2 separate regions of the Homo sapiens genome follow, and region 1 is linked to region 2. The links come from fine-mapping of genetic effects on gene expression. A gene starts in region 2. The other region holds a variant in brackets. All regions are shown on one strand. Distances are from middle to middle. Region 1 overlaps ZKSCAN1 (zinc finger with KRAB and SCAN domains 1). Region 2 holds the start of COPS6 (COP9 signalosome subunit 6).

Region 1 (5,522 bases), 52 kb after region 2:
CCAATTTTCTTTCTTTCTTTCTTTTTTTTTTTTCTTTTTTTGAGACAGAGTCTCTGTTACCCAGGCTGGAGTGCAGTGGTGCAATCTCGGCTCACTGCAACCTCTGCCTCCCAGATTTAGGTGATTCTCCTGCCTCAGCCTCCTGAGTAGCTGGGACTACAGGCGCCCACCACCACGCCCGGCTAATTTTTGTATTTTTAGTAGAGACAGGCTTTCACCACGTTGGCCAGGCTGGTCTCAAACTCCTGACCTCAAGTGATCCGCCCACCTCTGCCTCCCAAAGTGCTGAGATTACAGGAGTGAGCCACCGTGCCTGGCCAGTCCTATCCTCCCCCCAACCTTTTTTTTTTTTTTGACATGGAGTCTCACGCCATCACCCAGGCTGGAGTGCAGTGGCGCCATCTTGGCTCACTGCAACCTCCGCCTCCCATGTTCAAGTGATCCTCCTGCCTCAGCCTCCTGAGTAGCTGGGACTACAGGCGCCCGCCACCACGCCCAGCTATTTTTTTGTATTTTTAGTAGAGACGGGGTTTCGCCATGTTAGCCAGGATGGTCTCGATCTCCTGACCTTGTGATCCACCCGCCTTGGTCTCCCAAAGTGCTGGGATTACAGGCCTGAGCCACTGTGCCCAGCCTTATCCTCAATTTTCTAAGCATAAGGATTTAAGAGTTAGTGGGAAAGCATGACTACGGTTTAAAAGAACCTGGTCAGCTGAAGCAGTCCCACTTGGCCATTCCAGTACACTTCCTACTCTCGCTTCATGGAGAAGACCGTCTACTGACAAGAGAATCCATCCCCTTTGCACACAGTGGTCACCTGACAGCTCAGAGGTCAACTTCTTGGTTTTGAGGAAAAATTCAAAAGGCTGCACGTTTAAAGGAGTTGTTCCATTTCAGTGCCCCATTAGCCTGTCTTTCCTCAGAAATTTACCAATCTCTTGATGTGATAAGCACCAAACTATGAAGCTTTTCCCTTCCTCTCCCCGCTGCTCCGTTCTGTGAACCGACTTTTTGTCTACAATCACACTGATTTCTTCACTGTTTGCTCTGAAACTTCACTTTTTCTGAGTGATGTGTTCTGTCAAATAGGCTAAAATAAAATACAGTATCTGCTTACAGGTAATATACGGAACAATAACAAGGGACTGAAGGTACAAAACACACACGGACATTATGGTCATATAAAATATATAGAAGTACCTAACGTTAACAATTTTTGTAAGAAGTTGCACATTTTGCTATTTTTTTAAAGCATTTCCCCACATTTTTTTTCATCTGTAGATCCTCTGCAGTTAAGATTGAGCACCCCCCCGCAACTTTTTTTTTTGATACAGAGCCTCGCTCTGTCACTCAAGGCTGGAGTGCCAGTGGCATGATCTTAGCTCACTGCAACCTCCGCCTCGCAGGTTCAAGCCATTCTCCTGCCTCAGCCTCCCGAGTAGCTGGGACTACAGGCGTGCGCCACTGTGCCCAGCTAATTTTTTTTTGTATTTTTAGTAGAGACAAGGTTTCACCATGTTGGCCAGGCTGGTCTCGAACTACTGACCTCGTGATCCGCCTGCCTCGGCCTCCCAAAGTGCTGCGATTACAGGCGTGAGCCACGGCGCCCGGCCAAGATTGAGCTCCCTCTTGCAATGTTTCTCAAATTCATCACGATTGGAACATACCGACGGAATTCATTTTCTGTCTGAAGCAATGAGTGCTATACATGAAAGTTTTCCTCACATATAATATTCATCAAGTTTATTTACAGTATAAGCTTTCCGATGCTAAGGGCTGAGATGTGATTAAAGGCTTTGCCGTATTCATCACATTCAGGAGGCTCCTTTCTGGAATAAATTCTCTGATGTCTATGTGAACTGTCCCACGTATCACACGTCAACCTCTCTATACATATTTAGCAGTTTCACTTTTATGCCTTTAATATTAAGTGCTTTACATATCAAGATGTCTCATAGATCGATAATCTCAGGTTTTAGCCTTGCCTGCCAGGCTGGAGTAGAAACAAATACCCCACAACCTGAGGATTTTACTTCTCTTCCTGGCAAGGGTAGGGTATATATTGAAAAACTCTTCAAAAATTTCCATTAGGACAACTAGCATGCTAATGGTTAACTGTAGAATGTTTCAACTGTTAACAGACTTCAGCGGGCCAAGAACTTTTGAATGACTATCTTGAACGCCAATTAGATGTTGCAAGCGTTTTTGACCATGACCCAATTACACTTTGCACTGAGCATCTGATAAACGAATGCACTGCAAGTGGTTTTAATAAACAGTTGTAGCCTGTTTTCCTCAGAAAACACATCTTCAAATAGCTGCTTCAAGGACAGCATGTGGCTGAAGATCGAAGCAACCCTAGTGGCAGCTATCCAACAAAGTCAGGAAGATGTCTCCATGAAACGGAATTAAATGTGAGGGCACAGGTCACATTTAACCTTCATTTAAAAACAAAACTCAAAAGTGATGGCTGAGTTATATCAGCATATAGTTGTGGCTGAAAGAAAAAAAAAAACCAAAGGCCAATGTAAACATGACCAAAGTCCTTTCCCTCTTAAAAAATAAGTGCTTGGGTCGTTGCCTGGAGTTCCACACCTCACTTTTCAGTTTCTTTCTTTCTTTTTTTTTTTTTTGAGATGGAGTTTTGCTAGTCACCCAGGCTGGAGTGCAGTGTGCAATCTTGGCTCACTGCAACCTCTGCCTCCTGGGTTCAAGTGATTCTCCTGCCTCAGCCTCCCAAGTAGCTGGGATTACAGGTGCCCACCATCATGCCCGGCTAATTTTTATAATTTTAGTAGAGACGGGATTTTACCATGTTGGCCAGGCTGGTCTCAAAACTCCTGACCTCAGGTGATCCGCTCACCTCGGCCTCCCAAAGTGCTGGGATTACAGGCGTGAGCCACCGCACCTGGCCTCAGTTGCTTTCTAGAGGGCAAAAGTCCTTGCTCAAAAGCACAGGAGTTTTCTACAAAACCATTGCTGTGGCTTATTCTTTGAAGAAAATCCTTAAAACATTTTCTGCCTCCATTTTAGTTACTTAGATATACTCTTCTGGAGTAATGGGTTTTTCTTCCGTTGCATGGGTAGAAATATCCTAGTGACTGGTTGACTTGCAACACGTTTTCCCAAGTAATGCTGATGAAACTGCTTAGAAGCTATAGGGAAGTTGTAGTTGGTTTAAGTCATAAAGCCAAGGAGAGGCCAAAGAATGACCACTGTGCAGTTTTAGCTC[C/G]CACTTCGTTGGTTCCATATAAAACCATTTGGTCTCATGGACTTTAGCTGCTGATCAGTGAATGACTGATGAGTAATAGTTTTAGTATAAGTTTCTCAAGGGAAAGTCTCAAACTATATATGGGGTTCTCTTGTTATGGGGAGGTCACACTGATAGTCTTGAGGTTTGTTCTCAGTCTATGTTTCTGTTTCCGCAGGGCGGTCCTAGCCTTGGGTAGGACCCTTGTCCTACTTGAGTGGCGATGACTACTTACACAGCTCACAATCTCCTGTGTGTGAAACAGTCTCCTGCCATCAGCTTCTAGGTAGCCAGTTGCACCCTGCGCACAACGATGGGACCAATGAAAGTTTCATAACCTCACCTCAGTCTTTAGTGATAAGAAACAGAAAAGTCACTGTGCACTATGACGATGGCACAGCCAGCCACATCTCAGTACACTGCTGAGTTTCTCAGAGCAACAAAATACATTTAGTAATTGCCAGTGAACAATTAATGCTTTTGCAAAGTTACTGGAAAAGCGTGGGAAAAAACACTCCCTACCACGTTCCTTTTTCTGAAAAGCAACAAAAATCACATCTTCTGAACTCCAGTATCTAAGTACAAATGATTCAGAAAATCCCCAAATCATCATACTGTTCAGCAGCTAACTGCAAAGAATTCTAAGAGCTTTGCCACAGAAAGATGTCAAAAAAAAAAAATGACCTTCATCAGTGTTCATATTTTTCTTCAAGATGACGATGATAAAGTCATTTCTGACATTCCATGGTATTTACTCACTGTTTAGAAAGTCTATGCAGGCGGCTGACTAGTGCCTTTCGTTTATATTTGGAACAAAAACAGCATCAGACCCTAGAGGTTTAGCATGCCTTGTGGCTACGAAGGTCCTCTTTAGAAGCTGGGCCAGGCTACCATATTTCAGGGACTCACGATTCACAGGCTTTTATCACACACGTAGAAGTCCTGTAGAAGTCAGTCTGAATGAGTGCCTCTTAGGTGTTCAGTACTCACTATGTCCAGCACTGTGCTGGCAGGGATAGAAATATATCCCTTGACAACCGAATCTTTTTTGGGGGTTAGGGGGTGATTAAAAACTTCATACATGAAACAATGAAGGATTAAAAGACAGTATACAATCAAGTGCTAACTTGTGGAGAAATGCATTTAGGAGTGCGATAGTGCTTTAGGGATTTCAAGAAGGGAGAGATGTATTTGGAGTTGTTGTTGCCATTTCAGTAGAACTGATCTCAGGGATGAGGACAGAACCATCTACATTTGTTGCAGTCCTTTGGAACTGTAGACTGGTGCACATACCCTCTCTTTCGGGAAGAGATAGAAATCTTTGGTTTGATACTGATTAGCACAGTCCTAGATTTCTACAGCTTTGGTAGGCTACCAGTGATCATATATACAACTTATCGTATATATAACTACCTTGAGCAGCATGTCCCAATGTCGTTTTTGTTTTCACTGTCCCTCTTTTTTGAGAAATAAGCAGGATGTTGGCCAAAGTAGGGCTTGTTTGCAGCAAGTAGCATCCTAACCTCCGTATCACTTTCGTGGAGCCAATCTTGATCTTTCAACTATTATGTTGTGGTTGCCGAGAGTCCAAGAGTGCCTTAAAGGTATCCTCATTACTGAAAAGACTGACATTTCACTATGCGTGTGCTTTTCTCTTGTGTGGAAATCTCACGTGGATTATCCGTAAGATTAGCCTTTCCCTGCAGGGGCTGTGTGGAAGGATTATATGCCCAACTACTACATAAAGGCAGAACACTGCTGATGTGACTAGAAGGATCCTTAAGTGTGACTTTTGTTTTTTAATCTGTTGAGGCTGTATTTCTTTTTCCCTCCAGGAGCACACATCTCTGAAATAATTTTAGAAACAAAAGGGGGAAATGGCTTGATGGCAAATTCTTCCTTTACACACAACTTTTCAGGAACGCGCCAAATGCATCAAGGGAGGCTGGGCTGTACTCAGAGGCTCTCTCTCTGGCATGGATTCTGTGATGCAGAGTGAGGGTGGAGCTGCGGGTGAAGGCCTTGCCACACTTAGTGCACTTGTAGGGCTTTTCTCGAGTGTGAATTCTCCGATGCAAAATCAGGTATGAGTTTCGGTTGAAAGCTTTTCCACATTCACTACATTCATAGGGTTTCTCCCCCGTGTGAATTCTCTGATGCTTGGTGAGGTCCGAGCTCTGGCTGAAGGCCTTCCCGCACTCATTACATTCATAAGGTTTCTCTCCAGAGTGGATGCGCTGATGGAGGATGAGATTGGAACTGTGGCTGAAGG
Region 2 (5,000 bases):
GTGAAGGAGACGGAGAAACCTGAACACTATATGCCAACATTTGGGCTAGCTGCTTTTACACATTTCCTCTCATCTTCCCAAGAAACCAATGAAGTAGGGATTACCTCCTTTCACAGTTTGGAGATTAAATGACTAAGCCAGAGTCACAGCTGGTAAGTGGCATCTGGCATTCCCCAATAGAGGAGTGTCACACAGTAAAAGGTATAGCGACAATCATGACAGAGTAGGCATGGAGTATTACTCACATCTGTGTGCTTGGTCATAGGGTTCAACTTCAGAAAGAGGGGGCTCTCGATGATCTCACACACCTGGAAGAGAGGGACAATGCACAGGAAGTCAGTGCCCCCTACCTTTCTCCTTCCCCTCATTCTCCATTCTCTGCCCCAGCATGCACAGGTGTGAGCATGCATACCTGCTTATGGACGTGGATGTCCGAGGGGTCAGGTGGCCCCCCTGTGGTATACCAACCCAGAAACTCCAGCTCCTTGAACACCTGTTTAACTAGAGGGGAAGGGGCCAGAACATATAGTAATTCTTTTTTTTTTTTTTTCTGAGACGGAATCTCGCTCTGTTGCCCAGGCTGGAGTGCAGTGGCATGATCTCAGCTCACCACAACCTCCGCCTCCCAGGTTCAAGCAATTCTCCTGCCTCAGCATCCCGCGTAGCTGGGACTACAGGCACGCACCACCATGCCAGACTAATTTTTGTATTTTTAGTAGAGGTGGGGTTTCACTATGTTTGCCAGGCTGGTCTTGAACTCCTGACCTCATGATCCACCCACCTCGGCCTCCCAAAGTGCTGGGATTAGAGGCATGAGTCACTGAGCCCGGCCTGACATAGTAATTCTTTAAACCATCCTTCCTCAATGTGAAGCTCCTGGTGTATTTTCACCAGCTTCTCTCCTCCCTCCTCAAATCCTGGCTCAGTTTAGAATAACTACTCCCTTCTATCCTGTCTCCTCTCATCCTTTGCTTTCTTTTGAGAAAGAACTCTGAACGTTTTCTTTTTCTGAGATCTCTCCAGCTACTCTTCACTTTTTCTCCCCTGTTCTTGGTCTCCTCTCCTGTTTCTTTCCAACCCTCTCCATCTTCCCCACCCTGTACATTTTTTTTTTAACTCCCACTCCTCTTCCCCACATCTATTCCACTCTCACACTGCTCCTCCTTGGTGTAATAATATTCCTTGTCAATGATAATCTTCTCTTCCACGGTGTGGGACAGCAGCTCAAAGGAGTTCATCACCTCGATATTTCGGCCCTCCTGCTTGCCAATCAGAGCCCCAATCACTGGGAAAGAGAATGACATGGAAAAGGTGAGGGTAAAGAAACTTCTATGACCTGAGGGTCTGAGATCAGTGGGAACCATGTATTGGGGAAACGATGATTTGGGGGAGGGGGAATTGGCTCCAGTAGAGGAAGGGGAAAAGACCACTGCCTGGGGGAGGTGAGCAAGGAGAAGAGACTGGAGTCTATGCCCAACACTCACCCTGCACAGGCCGCCCCTCCTGGGAGCGCATGCGGATCCAGTGGTCTGAGATGTTGAGAATGACAAGGGGATGGAGAGCGACGGAAACACTCCCAGTCACTCCGCAGGCCATCACGCTGGGGACTACTAAGGGTGGAGGGAAAGGAGAGAGGGTGAGAGTCCGGGCCCCACGTTCTTCCCTGGAGATGGCAGTGGGGGACGGCGGAGCCCGGGCCACACTTTCCTCCCGTAACTTATCCCAGGGAAAGATGTTGCTGCTCCGCCCTCCTCCCTTCTCCCGGGAGCACAGGGAGGCCTCAACGAACCCCTGAAGGAGGTCTCCGGAAGCCACCCCCGCACGGCCCGTTACCTGCTGCATCCACCTCCATCCCGCTGCTTCCTCCGGTCCCGTTCGTAGCTGCAGCCGCCGCCGCCGCCGCCGCCATTTTCCCCGCGCCCGCCAGCCTCGGCCCCGCCCCCTTCCTTCCCGGCTTCCGTAAGGCGAGCGGCGCATGTTCGGTGTCCCCGCGGCGTGCGGCGGGCCTGGCGTCCGGGGAGCAGGCAGTTCCCGGGTCGCGGCGGGCGGCACTCGGTGCGGGGACGCCCGACGCCCTCTGGGCCTCGGTGCCTAGCGGGTTTTCCCAGACCCTGTCCCCGCCTGTCGCCTGCGGGTGACCTTTGACAAATTAACGACTTGATCGTCCTCGTCTGTGAAATTGGGATAAGAACGCCTAGTTCTTAAGGCTGTTGCAGAAGGAATGACATGTCGTGTTATTTCCCTCACAATAAAATCCAAACAACTAACCACAACCTGCAAGGCCCTGCCTGATCTGGCCCCGGCCTGGCCTCTTCTAGCCCTTGATCTTCAGGCTTCAGCTGCACTGGCCCTCATGTCTGGTGGTGGTGGTGGTTTGTTTTGTTTTGTTTGAGACAGGGTCTCGCTCTGTCGCCCAGGCTGGAGTGCAGTGGCCTGATGTCAGCTCACTGCACCCTCAAACTCCTGGGCTCAAGTGATCCTCCCAGTTCAGCCTCCCGAGTAGCTGGGACTACAGGCGCACCCCACCGCACCCAGCTAATTTTATTATTTGTTTTTATTTTGATAGAGACGGGGGTCTCACTAGGTTGTCCAGGCTGGTCTCCAACTCCCGGGCAGAAGAGATCCTCCATCCTCAGCCTCCCAAAGCACTGGGATTACAGGCATGAGCCACCGCACCCAGCTCTCCGTGTGTTTTTCACATGCTTTAGTTTCCCATTCAAAAGCCTGTGGTTCCTTCTCTTGTTCATCATGGTATCCCCTGTGACCAACACGGTGCCTGACACATTGGAGCCTAGATACTTTTTGAGTGAATGAAGGAATAATTAGGGGTGGAATCTGGTGTTGAGTTAGTTGCTCCATCTTGTGAAAGTTGCAGATACCAGGACAAAATCACATTGTCAGGTCCAAACAAATTGGAGCCATGAGAACACCAAGGAGAAGGTCTCATGCTTGCATGTCTGAGATAGGAATTATCTCAAGGACTTTCGAAAATAACCCCACAAGGCCAGGCATGGTGGCTCACACCTGTAATACCAGCATTTTGGGAGACCGAGGCCAGACAATCACTTGAGGTCAGCAGTTTGAGACGAGCCTAGCCAACATGGTGAAACCCCATCTCTACTAAAAATACAAAAATTAGCCAGGCGTGGTGGCAGGCGCCTGTAATCCCAGCTACTCAGGAGCCTGAGGCAGGAGAATTGCTTGAACCCGGGAGGTGGAAGCTGCAGTGAGCTGCGATCGCGCCACTGCACTCCAGCCCGGGCAAGACAAAGTGAGACTCCATCTCAAAAAAAAAAAAAAAAGAAAGAAAGAAAGAAAGAAAGAAGATAACTCCACAAGGCCAGGCATGGTGACTCACGCCTGTAATCCTAGCACTTTGGGAGGCCAAGGTTGGAGGATCACTTGAACCCAGGAGTTTGAGACCAGCCTTGGCAACATGGTGACACCTTGTTTCAACAAAACATGGAAACAAAATTCGCTGGGTATGGTAGAGGCATGCCGAGGAAATTTATGCTTGGGAAGTGAGTCAAAACTCCCTTCCTTTTTGTTCCCAGATAGCTGTAATTCCACAACCCTGTGTCATAGCCTCATACATAAGCCAGGCTCCTACAATGGCAAAAGGCATATACCTCCCCAGATGGTCTTCCTCACAAATTGCTTGCCAGGAAATTCCTCATTAGCCTCTGAATCTTTCAGCATAAACATTCCCCCTATAAACCAGCCCTAATCCGAGTTCTGTGAAATCTCATACTGACAATGTTGATTACAAGCTTATCTTCCCAATTATAGAACAAGGAAGAGACCAGGAATCATCCCTCCACCTATCCTGAGACAGATGCATAACTGACTTTTTCCTCCACTCCCTCTTTTCAAATGTTTATTGTATCTTACATAAAATGTAGATTTACTGAACACTAATGAGAAACTCACAAAAAAGTAACAATGTGCAGCAGGGTGTGCAGTGGCTCATGCCTGTAATCGCAGCACTTTGGGAAGCGAGTGGATCACTTGAGGCCAGGAGTTCAAGACCAGCCTGGCCAACATGGCAAAACCCCATCTTTACTAAAAATACAAAAATTAGCTGGGTGTGGTGGTGCCCACCTGTAATCTCAGCTACTTGGGAGGCTGAGGCAGGAGAATCACTTGAGCCTAGGAGGTGGAGATTGCAGTGAGCCGAGATGGACCCACTGGACTCCAGCCTGGGCAACAGATTGAGACTCTATTTCAAAAAATAAAATAAAATAACCATTTGCTGGACTGGGTGCAGTGGCTCACGCCTGTAATCCCAGCACTTTGGGAGGCCGAGGCAGGCAGATCACAAGGTCAAGAGATTGAGACTATCCTGGCTAACACTGTGAAACCCCGTCTCTACTAAAAATACAAAATATTAGCTGGGCATGGTGACACGCACCTGTAGTACCAGCTACTTGGGAGGCTGAGGCACAAGAATCGCTTGAACCTGGGAGGCAGCGGTTGCAGTGAGCCGAGATTGCGCCACTGCACTCCAGCCTGCTGACAGAGCGAGACACTGTCTTAAGAAAAACAAAACAAAACAAAACAAAAAACATTTGCCTCACTGCCTCTCCTTCTTCCTTATTTTCCTCTTGCATGCTTTCTTCCCTTAAATACTGAGTTCCTGGCCAGGCACAGTGGCTTATGCTTGTAATCTCAGCACTTTGGGAGGCCGAGGTGGGTGAATCACCTGAAGTCAGGAGTTCAAGACCAGCCTGGTCTCGACCAGTAGAGATGGTGAAACCCCATCTCTACTAAAAATACAAAAATTAGCCAGGCGTGGTGGTGCATGCCTGTAATCCCAGCTACTCGAGAGGCTGAGGGAGGAGAATCACTTGAACCCGGGAGGCGGAGGTTGCAGCGAGCCGAGATCACACCACCACACTCCAGCCTGGTTGACAAAGCAAGACTCTGTCTCATAAAAAAACCCAAAATTCACATCTGGCTAGCCTAGGCTGCTCCACCCCCTCCTTACCCCTAAACCTAAG

Evidence for each region. PIP is the estimated chance that this variant, and not a neighbour inherited with it, causes the effect. A credible set is the group of variants that fine-mapping cannot tell apart.
Region 1: its variant is the best candidate, but not a certain one, in a credible set for the expression of COPS6 in whole blood (INTERVAL, PIP 0.60).

The regions. Positions count from the first base shown.
Region 1 is chr7:100,033,827-100,039,348 of GRCh38, reverse strand. ZKSCAN1 (zinc finger with KRAB and SCAN domains 1) reads right to left here. Exons shown (of 6, transcript NM_003439.4): 6 at 1-5,522. The coding sequence ends at 5,152. Among named protein-coding and RNA genes, the nearest start is that of ZSCAN21, 13 kb to the left of the region's middle. RefSeq lists enhancers at 1,018-1,517, 1,518-2,019. The variant C/G (reference allele first, on the strand shown) is at 3,233.
Region 2 is chr7:100,085,900-100,090,899 of GRCh38, reverse strand. COPS6 (COP9 signalosome subunit 6) reads right to left here and starts at 1,931. Exons shown (of 10, transcript NM_006833.5): 1 at 1,834-1,931; 2 at 1,485-1,610; 3 at 1,154-1,285; 4 at 413-501; 5 at 246-308. The coding sequence starts at 1,909. RefSeq lists enhancers at 334-1,533, 1,040-1,731, 3,118-3,811 and a silencer at 1,882-2,071.